Homo sapiens: one gene and its partners. The protein of the gene in region 1 interacts with the protein of each later gene in a biochemical or structural test. Each region holds a gene or a part of one and is shown in the gene's direction. Other genes may lie near its edges.

Region 1 (4,656 bases):
TCACCCCCTCTGGCCCCCTCATTACCTGCTGAGGTGGGTTGGGAAGGAGCATAGGCCGAGAGTGAGGCAGCTCCACCCAGAGGCCTCAGGCAAAGGGCTGGGCCTCCTTGGGCCTCAGTTTACCCGTGTGCAAAATGAAGGTGTTGAAGGAATCAGGGGTTTCCCACCCTGGCTTCCTTGGGGAACATGTGGAGGAGGCAGGGTCCCACCCCACTCCCCGGGTCTCAGGATCGGGGGCAGGCCTGGAGGTCCACGCTGCCCGCCAACGCCGAGGGAGCACCCCGCAGGAGCCCCCTGCTGGCACTGCGGCCCTTCAGCTCTGGCTCTCCACTCTTCCGGCACTGTGGCTTCCCCACCGCTGTGGTTAATTGTGCCCTTCCAGGGCTGGTGGGACGGTGAGGGGTTCCGTGGGGCTCCTGCTGGCACCAGGGGTGGGCTCCATGGGGTGTCCGAGGTGTGCCTTCCACCCGGAGATGGTCTGCTGCCCTCGCGTCACTGGGCCGCTTCTTCCCTCTGACTAGAGGCCAAGTGTGGCTGAGCTGCTGTTACCTGGAGCAGGAGGCACAGAGGGGCCGGGTGGGCAGCCTGGGCTGTGCCCCACTCACCTTCTCCACCTACCCCAGGTACCTGGACAACATCCACCTGCACCCCGAGGAGGAGAAGTACCGGAAGATCAAGCTGCAGAACAAGGTGTTTCAGGTGGGCGTGCCTTCTGGCCCCCGGGGCCCAGGCTGGGGGTGGGGGCAGCTGGCCTGCAGGAGCCGGTGGTGGCCCACACCAGGCGGTGGGCTCCCTGGAGGAGCTAGCGAGAGTTGAGCCACAAGCAGTGAAGGGTTCGGCCAGTAGAAGGTAGCAGGACAAGATGGAGAGCAAGACTTTTATGCACCGGTCACCCCAAATCAACAAATTCTGCCTCTCCTCACCTGCATCCTTTTCCTCCTCTTCAGCTGGGCTTGTTTGGGAACATGTCGACTCTGGGGAGGTTTCTCATGCAAACCAGATGTCTGGTTCTTCTGGGGGAAAGGGCAGGGACTGGGGTCCTGGGCGGTGTTAGCCTCGCATCAGGCCCCAGCAGTGTCTGGCTCCTCAGCCTCACTCTTCGTGCCTGGTTGTGACTCTTTCCTCTGTGCAGAGCTGTTGGAGACTCCACAGCCCCCACCGTAGAAAAGCAGGTTTGCATCCAGCACTGAGGCACCCCCAGGGCTGGGCCCCATCCAGGGGTCGACAGCTGCTCCCAATAGCGAGAGCCGGGCCCCTGGACTGGGTGGGGTGTGGCCAGGCCATGGAGGAAGCCAGGGGCCCCCAGTGACGCCCATCTCCACCCCCAGGAGCGCATTAACTGCCTGGAAGGGACCCACGAGTTTTTTGAGGCCATTGGGTTCCAGAAGGTGTTGCTTCCCGCCCAGGATCAGGGTAAGTGGACAGGGCCTGGCTGAGTAGGGAATGGGGACGAGGGGCCTCGGGGCAGGAGGGCCCGGCTTGGGGGTCTCTCCATTGCACAGTGACACCCATGTCCTGCCACGCTGTAGAGGACCCCGAGGAGTTCTACGTGCTGAGCGAGACCACCTTGGCCCAGCCCCAGAGCCTGGAGAGGCACAAGGAACAGCTGCTGGCTGCGGAGCCCGTGCGCGCCAAGCTGGACAGGCAGCGCCGCGTCTTCCAGCCCTCGCCCCTGGCCTCGCAGTTCGAACTGCCTGGGGACTTCTTCAACCTCACAGCAGAGGAGATCAAGCGGGAGCAGAGGCTCAGGTGGGCCTGACGTCCGCGGAGCAGAGTGGGGCGGGGCGGGGTGGAAGAACCCCGGCCAGCCCTCGTGACCTGGCCCGCGTGTGCAGGTCCGAGGCGGTGGAGCGGCTGAGCGTGCTGCGGACCAAGGCCATGCGGGAGAAGGAGGAGCAGCGGGGGCTGCGCAAGTACAACTACACGCTGCTGCGCGTGCGCCTCCCCGATGGCTGCCTCCTGCAGGGTGGGCACCAACGATGCCCGTGGAGGGCGGCTCGGGTTGGTAGGGGGCCCTGGGCCCCACCCGCTCTGACTCCCCCACTCCCCAGGCACTTTCTACGCTCGGGAGCGGCTGGGGGCGGTGTACGGGTTCGTCCGGGAGGCCCTGCAGAGCGACTGGCTGCCTTTTGAGCTGCTGGCCTCGGGAGGGCAGAAGCTGTCCGAGGACGAGAACCTGGCCTTGAACGAGTGCGGGCTGGTGAGTGTCGGCCCGCAGGAGCACCGCTGACCCGATGCCTCTGCAGGTTCTCCTGGGACCGGCACAGACACCCCCAGGAGGGAGCCTCCTTGTTCTCAGAGCAGGGGGCCTGGGCAGGTCCCTGGGTTTGAATCCTGCTTTCCCACTTACTGGCAGCAGGGCCTCGAGCAAGTTCATAACTACTCCACGCCTCAGTTTCCCCATCAAATGGGAGCGGTGACGTGCGTTAGCTAGTGCAGTAGGTTTAGGCTTAGGTCCTGGAGTCCCGGAGGGAGAGGGCAGGAGGCCTGGGTGCGAGCCACAGCCTCCACCAGCTGAGATGGCTTCCAGGCCGGGGCATCCCCGCGCCCAGGTTGCCCGCTGAGTTCCCTGCCGCGGCAAGGGCCGACTCTCGGTCTCAGAGTGACGGCCTACCCCTACCGCAGGTGCCCTCTGCCCTCCTGACCTTCTCGTGGGACATGGCTGTGCTGGAGGACATCAAGGCCGCGGGGGCCGAGCCGGACTCCATCCTGAAACCCGAGCTCCTGTCAGCCATCGAGAAGCTCTTGTGAAATAAAAGCAGGGTTGGCCTCAGCCCTGTGGGTCTGTCTCATGCTCTCCCTGTTCCTCTCCCCGCCACCCCAGGGCCTCCAAGCCACCTCTGGAAATACTTGGCTCTGCCCCATGGGCACGGGAGGGGCGCCAGCCGTGGAGCTGTGGAATTGGGCCCCGTGGCAGAGCCCCCATCCCTTGGGGGCTGTGGGGATGCGCCCAAGCCCCCGAGGGAGAGGCCTGGGGACACCAACAAATCTAAGCCCTCCCTAGCTGCTTGGTAACTGTGTCATGAAGCTGCCGGACAGACACACGTGGCATCTCCCTGGGCAGGAGAGCAGGCCTGCAGCATGGGTCCTGTTCCCGTGTGCCGTGGGTGGCAGTGGCTGCACCTGGCACTAGGGCTGCTCTGTGGATGTGGGTGACAACGGCAGGAGGGGATGCTGGCCTTCCTGCACATAGACCTGCAGTTAGTAAATCATAAGCCCAAATAAACAGGTTGTTTGAATATAGTTTCTTGGTTCTCCGTTGAAACCGTGGGACACAGGGCAGGCCCACCTGCTGAAGAGCGGATGGCTTGGGGGCTGGGTGTGGCTCCCTGTCAAGGTGGGACCATGTGGATACCTGTTCTCAGGCCAGCACCTGGCCACAAGTGCCCGATGAGCCACCCACCTGGGGAGGAAGTCCCGTGCGCTAGGGGAGGCTGTGCTGTGCCCACAAAGGCCCAGTCCCTGCAGGGGAGGCGAGTGCTGTCACAGGCCTGGCTTCCCTGTGGCCAGAGGGACAGGGTGTCCTGAGACGGCCACATCCTATTCCTGGAACCTGCAGATGCGCAACTTCACCTGGCAAGAGGGGCTTGGGTATGATGAAAGGTCTTGAGCTGGGAGATGATCCTGGGTGGTCCGGGACCCAGTGTCCTCACAAGAGGTGGCAGGAGGGTGAATCAGAGAGAGACTGGAAGAGGCTGCGCATGGCTGTGAAGGTGGAGGAAGGGACCCCGAGCTGAGGGATGCAGCGCCTCCGAGCACTGGGAAACTCTCCAGGAGGGCCTGGTCCTGCCCACAGCTTGATGTTAGCCTGGCGGGGCATGTGTGCACTCTGACCCCCAAGCTGTGAGATGGTGACTTGCTTTAAGCCACCAGGTTTGTGGTACAGCAGCCCCAGGAGACACAGGGACTCTGCCCTGCAGTGTGGAAGGCATGTGTGCCCCGGCCCCACTGCTGACTTGGGGATGCAGGTCTGCACCTGGGGGAGGTGCCCGGGGCCTATGCTCGTGCCCCTGACCTTGCATTGGTCCCTCCCTCGCCCCCGGCACTGCCCCAGCTGGTGTGGGCACCCGGCCTGTTGAGAATGGAGGCTGTCACTCCAGTCCTGCGTCCTGCAGGCCCCAGGACCTGATTCCGGGTTGTCGGGAGCCCCTGTAAAGCTCATCAAAGGTGTGGCACAGGGGCAGCCTCTGCTTCAGGCACAGCTGAATCCTGCTTCCCAGCAGGAAGGCCTGGCCCGGGCGCCCTGCCGTCCCTGACTGGGTGGATGGAGGTAGCTGACACTTTTCCCACATAGGGTTCCCTGAAGGGAAGCTTAGGACTTCAGGTGGGGTGTGGCTGGGAAGAGCAGGACTGGCGAGCGTGACCCTCCCCGTGGCTGCGTGTGCTCTGAGCTGCTCAGTACCACAGCGGCTGTCGCCTGTCCTCCCTCGGACAGTGTGGATAAAGCCCACTCAACCTGGGGCGGGGAGGAGGTCACCTTCTAGCTCCAGCACTCGCAAAAGATGCACCTGACCTGGGGTGGGCTCTCACAAAGCCTCAGACTCGAAGCCAAACTCGGCTCCCAGCAGCTCCGGGTTCAGGGAGGTGACCCTAGCAGGTCTCTGGGAACACCCTCTCCTAACCCCCCAACCCAGGGCAGGAGGGATCGCCGGACAG
Region 2 (8,229 bases), on another chromosome or scaffold:
ATGTTGGCCAGGCTGGTCTCGAACTCCTGACCTCAGGTGAGCCATCAGCCTCAGCCTCCCAAAGTGCTGGGATTATAGATGTGAGCCACCGCGCCTGGCCTAGACTTACTCTCTTGAGAGAGTTGTTTAGAATTAAAGTGTTCTCTGTTTACAATTCAATAAAGTTAATAAAAAAGATAGCTGAAGCTGGGTGTGGTAGCTCACACCTGTAATCCCAGCAATTTGGGAGGCTGAGGTGGGTGGATCACTTAAGTCCAGGAGTTTGAGACCAGACTGGGCAACATGGCAAAACCCCATCTCGACAAAAAATACAAAAATTAGCTGGGCATGGTGGCATGCACCTGTAGTCCCAGCTACCTGGGAGGCTGAAGTGGGAGGATCACTTGAGTCCGGGAGGCAGAAGTTGCAGTGAACAGTGACCGTGCCACTGCACTCTAGCCTAGGTGATAAAGCAAGACCTTGCCTCAAACAAAAAAAAAGCAAACCCTGAAAAGTCTACATGCATATTGAATGTTTAAAAACAAATAAAATGAATTAGATAAAGCAAATATCTTGAAAGATAAAACTGTGAAAAATTTTATACTAAGAAATGAGCCAACTTATTTGACATTGATAAATTATTTCCTAGAGAAAAGTGTAATTGAAGTTTGACTAAAGAAAAAAAAAAACAAACAGCCTAAATAATTGTATAGCCAGTCAAGTAATTCAATCAGAAAAATCTTAATCCAGGAAACACAGGCCCAGATGGTTATATATGCAAGTTCTTCCTCACACTCAAGCAATAAATTGCTCTTAGATATTCTAAAAATAGAGAAAGAACATATCCCCCAACTCATTCTCTGAGGTCGGCATAACCTTGATCACCAAAACCACACAAGGATAGGAGAAAGGTAAACTACAGATCATTGTCACTTGATACAGATACATAGATTGTAGATAAAATATTGACAAAAGAATCTGGTCATATATAAGGAAGATTCTATACGGCAGCTGAGTGTAATAAAGCTCCAGTAGTTAAGACACCATATGGCATTGGTTCTGGAGTAGACAAGTAGGCCAGTGGAAGAAAGCTTTATATACAAAGAATCTTGGTCCACCACTGAGGCAGCATTGATGTCACCAGGCAAAGGAGATACTGGGGTTGCGGAATCTGGGATATTGACTATTCCTAAGATGAAAAAACAAATTGAGTTCCTAACTCATACCATAGTCAAAAATAAATTGCAGATGAATGGGTAAATAATATGTGGTACACACATACAATGTAATATTATTCAACATTAAAAAGGAAGGGAATTCTGACACATGCTACCACATGGATGAACATTCTGCTCAGTGAAATAAACCAGATGCAGACAGACAAATACTACATTCCGCTTACATGAGTACTTAGAGTAGTCAAACTCATGGGAGACAGAAAGTAGAATCACCTGGACACCGTGGTTCACACCTGGCATCCCAGCACTTTGGGAGGCCAAGGTTGGAGGATTGTTTGAGCCCAGGAGTTTGAGAGTAGCCTGGGTAACATAGTGTGATCCTGTCACTACAAAAAATTAATGAAAAAATTTTAAAATTAGCTGGGCGTAGTGGCATGTGCCTAGTTACAGCTATTCAGGAGGCTGAGGCGGGAGGATCAGTTGAGTCTGCAGTGAGCCAGGGTCAAGGCACTGCACTCCAGCCTGGGGGACTGAGCAAGACCCTGCCTCAAGGGAAAAAAAAAAAAAAAAAGAATGGTGGTTGCCAGGGCCTCGAGGAAGCAGGAATCAAAAGTGAATGTTTAGAAACGTATAGTAATTTGGCATTGTCATAACCTCCACACACATGGCCACAGAACCAGTACTTGTCTTGGTGAGCTCTGGGCGTCTGGTGTGTGTTGTGTCTTGCTTCTGTGCAGGAGGACCACATGGCAGTCCAGCAGACTGCACATTTTTAAAAACTAGGTCTTCCCAGGTAGTTTGAGGAGCACCAACCTAGAAAATTGGTCCCATAGTTTAAAAAAAAAGTATTTAATATTATGCCAATACATAAAAGTAAATGGAAAATGTCACAGGAATATTTATCCTTACTAAATGCAATAGTACTTCTAGGGTACTGTCTTCCAATTCTTTCCTTTTCAGTTCTGCTTGCAGCCCTGTTGGTTTTATGACCCACTGATTATTTGTGGCCTTTTGAAAACATGAAAACGGTAGAGAAGCATGAGCCAAGCCCTAGGAGACATGTTTGAATGTTTATAGTAGTGTCATTAACACAGCAAAATGATTGGAAACAGGCCGGATGCTCAGTGGATAAGTGGTAGTATATCCACACAATGACAGATCCTTTTTTTATTCCTTATCTATTCAATAATTATGACACTTTTAAAAGTAGATTTGGCCCTGCTTAGGTTTTTTTTTTAAATGGTGGGACTATCCAGACTTTTTAAAATGGTTGTAAAAGCAAGACATACTGGCCGGGCATGGTGGCCCATGCCTGTAATCCCAGCACTTTGGGAGGCTGAGGCGGGTGGATCACAACGTCAGGAGTTCAAGACCAGCCTGGCCAACATAGTGAAACACCATCTCTACTAAAAACACAAAAATTAGCTGGGTGTGGTGGCACGCACCTGTAGTCCCAGTTACTTGGGAGGCTGAGGCAAGAGAATCGCTGGAACCCGGGAGGCGGAGGTTGCAGTGAGCCAAGACCATACCATTGCACTCCAGCTTGGGTGCCAGAGCGAGCCTCCATCTCGAAAAAAAAAAAAAAAAAAAAGCAAGACAGACTTTAGATAAAAGCAAAGAACCTGAAATGATGCAGGAAAAAGTAGATAGGGCCACTTTTAATTTCTATGCTTCTGGAGTTTGTTTGTTTGCTTGTTTGTTTGTTTGTTTTTGACACAGAGTCTCGCTCTGTTGCCCAGGCTGGAGTGCAGTGGCCCGATCTCAGCTTACTGCAAGCTCCACCTCCTGGGTTCACACCATTCTCCTGCCTCAGCCTCCCGAATAGCTGGGACTACAGGCACCTGCCACCACTCCCAGCTAATTTTTTGTATTTTTTAGTAGAGACGGGTCTTCACCATGTTAGCAAGGATGGTCTCATTTGCCTGACCTCGTGATCTGCCCTCCTCGGCCTCCCAAAGTGCTGGGATTACAGGCGTGAGCCACCACGCACGGCCCTGCTTCTGGACATTTTTTATGTGCCTTTTTTACATAGGTGAGGTCATCTTAGACACAAGCAACATGACTGGTTTTACAATTATTTTCCTGTTGGCTGCGTAGCATACCATTGTATAACTGTAAATTTACATATGAAGAAATATAATTCAGCTGCATTTTGAGTATACAGACAGTCCCTGACCATGGTTCTACCTAGAATTTTTCAACTTTATTATGATGCAAACATGATACACATTCAGTAAAAACCATACTTTGAATACCTATACAACCATTCTGTTTTTGATCTTCAGTACAGTATTCAATAAATTACATGAGTTATTCAACATTTTATTATAAAATAAGCTTTATAGTAGATGATTTTGCCCAACTGTAGGCTAATGTATGTGTTCTGAGAATGGTTAAGGCAGGCTGCACTATGATGTTTGGTAGGTTAGGAATATTAATACATTTTTAACTTATAAGTTTATGGGACTTGGTTCCATCATAAGTCAAGGAGCATCTGTACAGTGGTATTAGTGACGTTGGTATGAGCATTCTTAGAATTTTCTCATTGGGTATAGCTAGTTATTTACTTAGAATAAATTTCGAAGGCCGAGTGCGGTGGCTTATGTCTGTAATCCCAGTTCTTTGTGTGGCCGAGGTGGGCGGATCACCTGAGGTCAGGAGTTCGAGACCAGCCTGGCCAACATGGTGAAACCCCATCTCTACAACAATACAAAAATTAGCCAGGTGTAGTGGCACATGCCTATAGTCCCAGCTACTAGGGAGGCTGAGGCAGGAGAAGTGCTTGAACCCTGGAGGCGGAGGTTGCAGTGAGCCAAGATCGCACCACTGCACTCCAGCCTGGGCGATAGAGCGAGATTCTGTCTAAAAATAAATAAATAAAATAAATAGTAAAGTTCCAGAAGTGAACTTTCCAGGTTAAAGGTTGTTAGTGTCTTTTGCAGTTAGCTGTATAACTACCTTGTCTAATTTGAACCATATCTGGGGAACAGCATCTCTTCAGCGATGGGCACAGGGCAGCCTGTCCCTTATGGCAGTGTTGTCACAGCAAGAAGTGCAGCTGTAGGTTGTGTCATGGGCATGAATGCTGTGTCATTCGCAGGAGCCAGTAGAGCCACAGTAACATGGACAGCGACAGCTCCAGTGCTGCCAGGAAACCATCCAACTGATTTCTGTGTTTGCCCCACAGATCTACGAACTGCGTGTGATGGAGACCAAACCCGACAAGGCAGTGTCCATCATTGAGTGTGACATGAACGTGAGTGGCTCTGTCCAGTTACAGTGAGCCTGGGCCCTGGGAGGATGGGCAGTTGGTGACCACTGCAGGCCAGGGTGTCAGGAGGGCATCAAACAGCCCCTGGGACTCTGGGTAAAGAGGAGGAAGATGCTGTCAGAACATCATGAGGAGACTGTGACCTTGTGATCTATCTCAGGGCCAGTTGGGGCAACAGAGTTTGCTGCCAGTGCTGCCATGGTTAGCTCTGACCCGTTGAGGAGTGAATATTCTTTTTTTTTTTGAGACTTAGTTTCACTCCTGTTGCCCAGGCTGGAGTGCAGTGGTGCGATCTTGGCTCACTACAACCTCCACCTCCCAGGTTCAAGCGATTCTCCTGCCTCAGCCTCCCGAGTAGCTGGGATTACAGGCATGTGCCACCAGGCCCGGCTAGTTTTGTATTTTGGTAGAGACAGGGTTTTACCATGTTGGCCAAGCTGGTCTCAAACTCCTGACCTCAGGTAATCCACCCGCCTCGGCCTCCCAAAGTGCTGAGATTACAGGTGTGGGCCACCGCGCCTGGCCGAGGAGTGAATATGCTTAAGAGCTAAGGAAGCGTACTGAACCTTCTGAGTAGGAATGAAGTGCTGATGCACACAGCATCCTGGTTGTATTACTAGGGAATACTGCTGAGCAAAAAAAGCCAATCCCAAAAAGTTACTTCGTTATATAACATCCTCAAAGTGACAGAACTTTCGAAATGGAAGACAGACCAGTGGTTGCCAGGGCTTAGGACTGGTGGAGGGGGCTGGGAGACAGCTGGGTATGGTTATAAAAAGACAACATGGGCAGTCCTAGTGGTGGTGAAACTGTTCTACATCTCAACTGTGGTGGATACATGCCCCACACAGTGATTACATTGTGTAGAACTAAAGATACCCATGAACAAAAACATGTAAAACTGGGGAAATCTGAATAAGAGCAGTGGGTTGTGCCAGTGTTGATATCCTGGCAGCAATACTTTACTGTAATTTTGTAAGATGCTACCGTTGGGAAAACTGGGCAAGTGTACAAGGCATCTTTTGTATTATTTCTTAAAACTGCATGTGAATCTACAGTTGTCTCAATTAAAAACAAAAAAGGAAGCCAAGGGTGGTCATGTCTCAATATTTTACTTTTAAAATCCTGGAAACACAGGTGGACTTTGATGCTCCCCTGGGCTACAAAGAACCCGAAAGACAAGTCCAGCATGAGGAGTCGACAGTAAGTGTTATCCTCAGTGTCCTTTGCTGTCCTGCTGCATGCTGCTTTTGAGTTCCTGGCAGTGGCTCGTGGGTGGCCTCTGCTAGTGTTGGTGTAGTCATATCCTCTGCGTCCCTTCCAGCCATGCTTCCGGGGGACATCCTAGCCGGGGGTGGGGGTGAGAGGGAAGCTGGGTGTCCCCGCTGAGGAGCTCACCTGTTTTTCTTTTTCCCTGTCAGGAAGGTGAAGCCGACCACAGTGGCTATGCTGGAGAGCTGGGCTTCCGCGTGAGTACCAGACCACTTGACTTATATTGCTGTGCCCTCTGCTCCTTGAAATTAGAGCACTCACTCAAGGTGTTCTCCATGATGCTCGATGGACATCAGCAGGGGTTAGGCCTCTGGGTACCTGTGCATATGCAAATCTGCCACTCGCTCAGTTACCAAACCCTTTTGTATCCACTCTCTCCTGGAATCTTCCCAACAGCCCCATAAGGCAGCCCAGATTTTTAAGAATTTCTAACCTACCGAAGAGTTTAAATAGTACAGTAGACATATACTGTTCCCTTAGGTTCACCAAAAGTTACCACATTTGCTTTCTCTCTCTTGTAAATCATGTTTCCTTTTTTCTTTGCCTGTACCATGTAGGTTGCAAACATGACCCTTAGCATAACTACTGGCAAGGCTCCATGGGAAACAGGTGGAGGTGGTTCATGTGTGGGCACTGAGGTGGCAGGAGGTGCCAGGAAGCAGCAGAGAGGGCAGAATGATGGGAAGCTGAGCTATGGGGCAGTCACAACAGTAGCCTTAGCCCACCCATAGAGCTTGAACTGGGTGGCCCTGCAGAGGCAGGGATCAGGTCTTTTAACCCAACACTGACTGCTGGCTGCCCTTGGCCAAGTGGCTGTCTTCAGCTCATGGCCACCCCCTGAGGAACTGGGCAGAGTTCTTAGCTGCCAGCACCCCAGCAGTTGAGGAGTCAGGGCTTCAGTCCTGAAGGGGTCTGCACAGCACCCCCAGCTCACATCCCTGCAGTGATCTCCAAGCAAAGGACATATCGTCCTCACACTTGGGCTTATTATATGACTCACCTACTTCCTGTCTAGGCTTTCTCTGGATCTGGCAATAGACTGGATGGAAAGAAGAAAGGGGTAGAGCCCAGCCCCTCCCCAATCAAGCCTGGAGATATTAAAAGGTAGGTCTGTCCTGGCTCTCCTCCAGGACAGGAGGAGGATCTGTGCCAGCCCGCTGGGGTCGGGCAGCCTCACCCCAGTTCTGGAGACAAAGCCTGGGTCAGTAGTCTCCCAAGGGACTAAAACCCTTAGCTGCTCTCCTTGGTGGGGTGGAGCACAACATGCCCCTCCTTCCACAGTGCCACCCCCAGTACCACTGTGGTCCAGCCTCTCTCCATACCTCTCCATACCCCCAATTCAGCCTCTTCTTGCCCCCACTGGCTTTCCTAAGATGCGAGTCTGATTAGATCTGTCTCTTACTCAAAACCTTTCTGGTCCCTATTTGGTGATCTGCCTATTTTCCTGTTTTGTGACTTGGAATTATTAATCAGGTCACATTATCTCAGTTCCCCTGAAAGTTCCCTGAGGAGCTACCTCAGATGTGCTTCTGTTGCTGGGTCCGGGGACCCACAGCAGACCCTTCCTCTGGTGGCCATGATGGCAGGGGCAGGGCTGAGGTGTGTCAGTTGTCTGTTGTGTGTGTGAAATCAGAATACTGGAGTGAGAGTCTAGCCACCTCAGGGGGTTCTGTGAAGCTCAGGACAGTGACAGTGAGGGCTTCCCAATCCTTCAGATGACCCCTCTCCATAGACAGGTACAGAGCCTAAAGCCCCTGGCCCTATACCCAATATTGATACCAAACCAAGAAGTCAGTTACTTTCTGCTTCCCTCCTGGGAGGATGCCAGGAAGCACCAAAGGGCCCAGGTGGGGTGCAGCAGCATCTTTTCTGCGTTCCTCTTGACTGTCAAAAATGAATTTTAGTCCTTTTTTCCTGGAAATAACATTTCTCTGTCTCTGTCTCTTCTTACAGAGGAATTCCCAATTATGAATTTAAACTTGGTAAGATAACTTTCATCAGAAATTCACGTCCCCTTGTCAAAAAGGTTGAAGAGGTGAGTGTATTTCCTTGTATTTCCTTGGTTGGTAATGAGGAGATTTATTTGCTAGTGATGACTGAAGTTCTTGGCATTCTGAGTAGGGGTGTGCATTAGTCTGTTTCCAAGCTGCTGGTAAAGATGTACCCGAGACTGGGCAATTTACAAAAGAAAGAGGTTTAATGGACTTACAGTTCACATGGCTGGGGAGGCCTCACAATCATGGCAGGGGGCAAGTCACATCTTACATGGATGGTAGCAGGCAGAGAAAAAGCTGGTGCAGGGAAACACCTACTTATAAAACCATCAGATCTCATGAGACTTATTCACTATCATGATAACAGCACGGAAAAGACCCGCCCTCATGACTCAGTTACCTCCCACCGACTCAGTTACCTCCCACCTGGTCCCTCCCACAACACGTGGTAATTCAAGATGAGATTTGGGTGGGGACGCAGCCAAACCACATGAGGGTGTCTGTCATGTTTTCCCTTTCCTAGGGTCCCTCTGCT
Region 3 (6,862 bases), on another chromosome or scaffold:
GAATCCCAGTCCCCTCAGATAGCAGTTTTTATACTGGGAAAGTTACTTAATCAAACCTCCAAGCTTCAGTTTGCAAGCCTGTAAATTGTGGGAGAAGCCCCTGTCTCACAGGACTGCATGAGGTAAGATACACTGTTGGGAAGCACAGTAGCGGGTTCTCGGTAAGTAAAGCTAGCTGCCATATTCCTAAAGGTGGGGGTAGGAGAGCAGGATTTTGACGATCTGAGAGGAGACGCGCACACACCCAGAAGCATGTAATAGTCGTGTGACCGTTCTGTCAGTGAGGCAAAAGGCTGTCGAAGAACGGGCCAGTTAAATCACCATCTGGGTGTCACAGCCTGCCTGACAATCATGCCTAATCTCATATCAGGGATATGCAGTAATAGCTTGCATTTGAAAGCTTTAAAAAAACAAACAAACCAAACCCTTCCACATCTTGCTAATTTTAATGTTTTGCAGTTCTGTCATTCCTCTAAGGGATCAGTGAGGGCAGTAAAACTTGAGCAGGCCTCCTCTTTCTCCCCTTCCTTTTATAGGGTAGGGGTATGTTTTTCAAAGACTTTTCAAATTGTGAACTGTAATATACAGAGATATACCATATTGGTGGTTGTGGTGTGTGTGTTTTTCTTTAAGAGAATAAAAAGAAACTTGTTTCTCTTCTGAGCCTTGAATTGCCTTCAGGCTAAAAAAACAAATGACCAATCTGGTTTCTAATTATCAAAGGACATAATAACAGCAGGTTTGGCTTTCTGATCTAGGTTTATCAAGTAGGATGGCAGATGCATCAATTAAAAAAAGCTTGGTGCTTTTGGGGGGCAGCCAACAGTTACTTTACTTTAAATGGCCATATTCTAACTTAACGGCTTGTAGCTACTTCTCAGTTGTGGGCAACACAGGATACAAGATTCTAGTGGCAAAATCAGCGAGCCCTGGAGCCTGCCTTCCACTTGAACTTTCTCTGTTGGGGGAAGTCCTTCTGCTAAATTTTGCATAAAGATCAGATGACAAAATACAGCTCCTTGCAAAAGCAGTAACTGCTTTGAAATTACCATAAATTTTTGTTGATTATGTATAATTGGGTATCTTTTTATACTAATTATTTGCATTTAATTTCACTATCTACTTAAGCAGTGGAGATGGCTTCCATATTGTCTTAGAGTGAGTAGCAAAGCAAGACAGCCCTAGCATTTTCTCCAGCAAGTGTTCTATTTTATTATGTACTTTGGAGGAATATTATTGTACCAGAAGGCATGGATGTTGAGAAACCAGCACTTGGAAAATACATTTTGATTTAATGGTAAAGCTGTATTTGTTTAAAATGGAGGAGGTGAGTATAGGAAGGTATAACTGCTTTTCTAAATGGAATGCTGATACATTTGTATCACCATTTTCCATTCCATTTAGAGTAGTTATATCTTCTCTGTACACACTAAATTTTGTGTTTAAAAGGGGTTTTTGGCCAGGCGTGGTTGCTCACGTCGGTAATCCCAGCATTTTGGGAGGCCGACGGGTGGATCACGAGGTCAGGAGATCGAGACCATCCTGGCTAACATGGTGAAACCCTGGCTCCACTAAAAATACAAAAATTAGCTGGACATGGTAGCGGGCGCCTGTTGTCCCAGCTACTCGGGAGGCTGAGGCAGGAGAATTGCTTGAACCCGGGAGGTGGAGGTTGCAGTGAGCTGAGATCATGCTACTGCACTCCAGCCTGGTGACAGAGTGAGACTCCGTCTCAAAAAAAAACAAAAAAACAAAAACCCGAGTTGTTGTCTGTTTTGGGAAGAGGCATGAAGGTATCGAGTATGATGTAAACAGACTCCAGTCACTGACTGCTGTCCCTTCCCAGGCAGGATGCATGTAGTATAACAAGTAGTGCAGGGCGCAGGCTCTGGAACCAGGCTGACTAGGTTGGAATCCTGTCACTTTCGAAGCGCTTCACTCAGTGTTGGCTCAATTTTCTTGTTTATAAAACAGGAGTAATAGTAATGCCTACCTCATGGGGTTATTGTGAAGATCAGATGAATTTATAAGCAGGCAGCACCTAGTGTAAGGCAATAATCACTGAGTAAATTCACATAGTAACTGCTCTAGTATAAGGTCAAGTATAAAGCCTGTCCTCTTCAGGGTTTCTGCTGTGGACAAGTCACCTGTCATGACTTACTCTTGCTGCCAAGAAGGGTTTAAGCGGAGGTATCAGATCATGCTCTCTGCCTTCAAGCAAAATTTTAAACATTAGGATCTGCTAAGTGGAATAGGTTTAAACACATTCTCAGTTTACTAATAAAAGAGTCAAAGATGGGAAATAGTTGGAAAATACTATTGAGAGTGTAGGCTTGGGTTTAAGTTCTCTTAGCTGTTCTGTGAACTCTTAGTTTATTAATTTTAAGGTGGGAAATCATCTAACCGTCTGGGGCCCCAGCTCTCCCACCATCTGTGAGAAGGGAAGAATGTACCTGGAAGGCAGATTCTGAATAAATTTTAAAACATACCCATACTTCCAACATAGAAAGCCTTCTTCCCCTGTCTCCTTTGATGGGCTCAGCTGAGAGCCTTTTAGAAATGCTGTGCAAGGCTCAAACATGCAGGCTGTGGATTTGGCCTTTGAAAGTGAATGTATTTTGTATCCTTTGATCCAGTTTGAGCCATATTTAGATATACCAAGATGCTATCAGTCATTCTTTGGTTGCTGGGCTTGTGGGTGTAATATTTTTGTTTCCATACTGTTCTGCATGGATTACTTTTATAAGCAGAGAAAAAAACGTTCAGAGTGTGAATTTAGCTGAAATCTGAATACATTTAAGAAACATGAAAAACGAATGCCGTCTGTGGTCAGGTCATGGGGCTGAGTACAGAAAAGACAAAGTTAAATAAGACGTCCCTCGCTGCCTTCAACATGACAAGTGCCATGGGAACAGCAGGAGAGGGAGGTGTTCTCGGAGGTCAGATAACTATGTGGAAGTGACTTTGTTCTCTTCTCTCCGTTTGTGTCCCCGTCTTTCTGCACCAGGTACCGCTGGCTGCCCAGTAGGAGAGGAGGAGTATCAGGATTTGGTGTGCCCCCTGCTAGCATGAGGCGAGCTGCTGATCAGAATGGCGGAGGCGGGAGACACAACTGGGGCCAGGGCTTTCGACTTGGAGACCAGTGAAGGGGCGGCCTCGGGCAGCCGCTCCTCTCAAGCCACATTTCCTCCCAGTGCTGGGTGCACTTAACAACTGCGTTCTGGCTAACACTGTTGGACCTGACCCACACTGAATGTAGTCTTTCAGTACGAGACAAAGTTTCTTAAATCCCGAAGAAAAATATAAGTGTTCCACAAGTTTCACGATTCTCATTCAAGTCCTTACTGCTGTGAAGAACAAATACCAACTGTGCAAATTGCAAAACTGACTACATTTTTTGGTGTCTTCTCTTCTCCCCTTTCCGTCTGAATAATGGGTTTTAGCGGGTCCTAGTCTGCTGGCATTGAGCTGGGGCTGGGTCACCAAACCCTTCCCAAAAGGACCCTTATCTCTTTCTTGCACACATGCCTCTCTCCCACTTTTCCCAACCCCCACATTTGCAACTAGAAGAGGTTGCCCATAAAATTGCTCTGCCCTTGACAGGTTCTGTTATTTATTGACTTTTGCCAAGGCTTGGTCACAACAATCATATTCACGTAATTTTCCCCCTTTGGTGGCAGAACTGTAGCAATAGGGGGAGAAGACAAGCAGCGGATGAAGCGTTTTCTCAGCTTTTGGAATTGCTTCGACCTGACATCCGTTGTAACCGTTTGCCACTTCTTCAGATATTTTTATAAAAAAGTACCACTGAGTCAGTGAGGGCCACAGATTGGTATTAATGAGATACGAGGGTTGTTGCTGGGTGTTTGTTTCCTGAGCTAAGTGATCAAGACTGTAGTGGAGTTGCAGCTAACATGGGTTAGGTTTAAACCATGGGGGATGCAACCCCTTTGCGTTTCATATGTAGGCCTACTGGCTTTGTGTAGCTGGAGTAGTTGGGTTGCTTTGTGTTAGGAGGATCCAGATCATGTTGGCTACAGGGAGATGCTCTCTTTGAGAGGCTCCTGGGCATTGATTCCATTTCAATCTCATTCTGGATATGTGTTCATTGAGTAAAGGAGGAGAGACCCTCATACGCTATTTAAATGTCACTTTTTTGCCTATCCCCCGTTTTTTGGTCATGTTTCAATTAATTGTGAGGAAGGCGCAGCTCCTCTCTGCACGTAGATCATTTTTTAAAGCTAATGTAAGCACATCTAAGGGAATAACATGATTTAAGGTTGAAATGGCTTTAGAATCATTTGGGTTTGAGGGTGTGTTATTTTGAGTCATGAATGTACAAGCTCTGTGAATCAGACCAGCTTAAATACCCACACCTTTTTTTCGTAGGTGGGCTTTTCCTATCAGAGCTTGGCTCATAACCAAATAAAGTTTTTTGAAGGCCATGGCTTTTCACACAGTTATTTTATTTTATGACGTTATCTGAAAGCAGACTGTTAGGAGCAGTATTGAGTGGCTGTCACACTTTGAGGCAACTAAAAAGGCTTCAAACGTTTTGATCAGTTTCTTTTCAGGAAACATTGTGCTCTAACAGTATGACTATTCTTTCCCCCACTCTTAAACAGTGTGATGTGTGTTATCCTAGGAAATGAGAGTTGGCAAACAACTTCTCATTTTGAATAGAGTTTGTGTGTACCTCTCCATATTTAATTTATATGATAAAATAGGTGGGGAGAGTCTGAACCTTAACTGTCATGTTTTGTTGTTCATCTGTGGCCACAATAAAGTTTACTTGTAAAATTTTAGAGGCCATTACTCCAATTATGTTGCACGTACACTCATTGTACAGGCGTGGAGACTCATTGTATGTATAAGAATATTCTGACAGTGAGTGACCCGGAGTCTCTGGTGTACCCTCTTACCAGTCAGCTGCCTGCGAGCAGTCATTTTTTCCTAAAGGTTTACAAGTATTTAGAACTCTTCAGTTCAGGGCAAAATGTTCATGAAGTTATTCCTCTTAAACATGGTTAGGAAGCTGATGACGTTATTGATTTTGTCTGGATTATGTTTCTGGAATAATTTTACCAAAACAAGCTATTTGAGTTTTGACTTGACAAGGCAAAACATGACAGTGGATTCTCTTTACAAATGGAAAAAAAAAATCCTTATTTTGTATAAAGGACTTCCCTTTTTGTAAACTAATCCTTTTTATTGGTAAAAATTGTAAATTAAAATGTGCAACTTGAAGGTTGTCTGTGTTAAGTTTCCATGTCCCTGCTCTGCTGTCTCTTAGATATCACATAATTTGTGTAACCAATTATCTCTTGAAGAGCATTTAGGAAGTACCCAGTATTTTTTGCTGGATTAATTCCTGGATGCAGAATTCCTGGGTTTTCATTTTAATGAAGGAGGATGCTTGCTAACTTTGAGTGAGGAGTCATATCTGATTGTAGCATGCTTTATGGCATTTTTATAGCTTCTACCCATGGATCTGAGCCCTGGAACTTTATAAAATTAGTTTAATCCTGTTTCCTCATAAGGCACACACAGACTAGATAGCAGGTGCCATGACATTCCTGAGCCCTTTTTTTTTTTTTTCCTCGAGGGTGAACATCCCAGTCTGTATCTTGGGCCTTCGACAGGCCAACTTCACTCATCACAAGGTGAGGTGACAGGAAGCAGGTTGTATGTATGTCCCTCTTCTATTACTGGGGAAATACTGAAGCAATAGAAAAAGATCCCGCTTATTTAGAAGGACACATTGCCAGTATCATTGTGTTCTAAGCTACCTTTTGAATGACATGGATCTAATAATAGGCAATGTTGCAGTTGCCAACATCTTCGTTTATTGCCAACTCTGTTTCTGAGGTCCCTGCCCCTCTTACACTTTCAGCAGTAACTTAACACTCTGAATAACTAACCTTTGAAAGAAGTTACTCCTTTCTGGACTTTATACTGTTTTTTTCTTAGAAGGCTGGGCTGAGCAAATGGGTTTACTGGCAGTTCACTTGTTTGCCTTCCAGAGTGACTGGTGATCAGAATTGGCCAGGAATACCATGTCCTGTGTTTACTTCTTTCTTAACCCTCCCTCCCACCTTCCCTCCCTGTCCCTCCCTCTTTCTCTCCCTCTCTCCCTCTCTGTCTCTTCTTTCTTTGTTTTTTTGAGACAGGATCTCAGTCTGTCACCCAGGTTGGAGTGTAGTGGCATGATCTCGGCTCGCTGCAACCTCTGCCTCCCAGGTTCAGATGATCCTCCCACCTCAGCCTCCTGAGTAGCTGGGACCACAAGTGTGTGCCACCACACTCGGCTAATTTTTTGTATTTTTGTTCGAGATGGAGTTTCACCATGTGGCCCAGGCTGGTCTTAAACTCCTGAGCTCAGGCAAGTCACCTGCCTCGGCCTCTCAAAGTGCTGGGATTACAGGCCTGAGCCACGGTGCCCAGCCTTTCCCACGATTTATATGTGTGGTTTAAACCTAGGCTCCTTCCCGTACGGTCCCCTTATCTCACATCAACTCTGCTTGTTCCAGTAGGAACGCCGTGTTCGGGGCACACCTGGGCACTGAGCATTAATGTGCCAGGTACTTTATGAAAAAGCCTCCAATTTACGGTTTTTAAAATCTGGCTATACATAAGCATTAAACTTGAGATTTTAAAAAAATGCAGGTATCTTGGCTCATTCCCATTCTACATACTTTTGAAGTTGATTCTGACGTTCAGCTGGATTTGGGAACTTGTGTTTAAACAAACTTGTGAAATAGTATTATCCCCATTTTCCAGATGAGGAAACTTAAGCTTCAAGTCCCTTGATTAAAATCAGGCAGCGGCCAGGTACGGTGGCTCACGCCTGTAATCCCAGCTC

The links.
Region 2: the proteins of UBXN6 (region 1) and UFD1 form a complex in vitro, tested with the Homo sapiens proteins (one study listed by BioGRID).
Region 3: the proteins of UBXN6 (region 1) and DERL1 form a complex in vitro, tested with the Homo sapiens proteins (one study listed by BioGRID).

What each region holds. Positions count from the first base shown.
Region 1 is NC_000019.10:4,443,593-4,448,248, reverse strand, and holds the end of UBXN6 (UBX domain-containing protein 6), read left to right. Parts: exon of another isoform or gene 1-623; coding exon 624-699; exon of another isoform or gene 700-1,061; coding exon of another isoform or gene 1,062-1,144; exon of another isoform or gene 1,145-1,328; coding exon 1,329-1,413; exon of another isoform or gene 1,414-1,529; coding exon 1,530-1,749; exon of another isoform or gene 1,750-1,835; coding exon 1,836-1,966; exon of another isoform or gene 1,967-2,051; coding exon 2,052-2,200; exon of another isoform or gene 2,201-2,625; coding exon 2,626-2,751; 3' UTR 2,752-3,243; downstream 3,244-4,656. UniProt on the Homo sapiens protein: May negatively regulate the ATPase activity of VCP, an ATP-driven segregase that associates with different cofactors to control a wide variety of cellular processes.
Region 2 is NC_000022.11:19,454,255-19,462,483, reverse strand, and holds part of UFD1 (ubiquitin recognition factor in ER-associated degradation protein 1), read left to right. Parts: intron 1-4,344; coding exon 4,345-4,413; intron 4,414-5,565; coding exon 5,566-5,631; intron 5,632-5,849; coding exon 5,850-5,897; intron 5,898-6,715; coding exon 6,716-6,804; intron 6,805-7,653; coding exon 7,654-7,735; intron 7,736-8,229. UniProt on the Homo sapiens protein: Essential component of the ubiquitin-dependent proteolytic pathway which degrades ubiquitin fusion proteins.
Region 3 is NC_000008.11:123,011,731-123,018,592, reverse strand, and holds the end of DERL1 (derlin-1), read left to right. Parts: intron 1-3,007; coding exon 3,008-3,146; 3' UTR 3,147-5,423; downstream 5,424-6,862. UniProt on the Homo sapiens protein: Functional component of endoplasmic reticulum-associated degradation (ERAD) for misfolded lumenal proteins. Forms homotetramers which encircle a large channel traversing the endoplasmic reticulum (ER) membrane.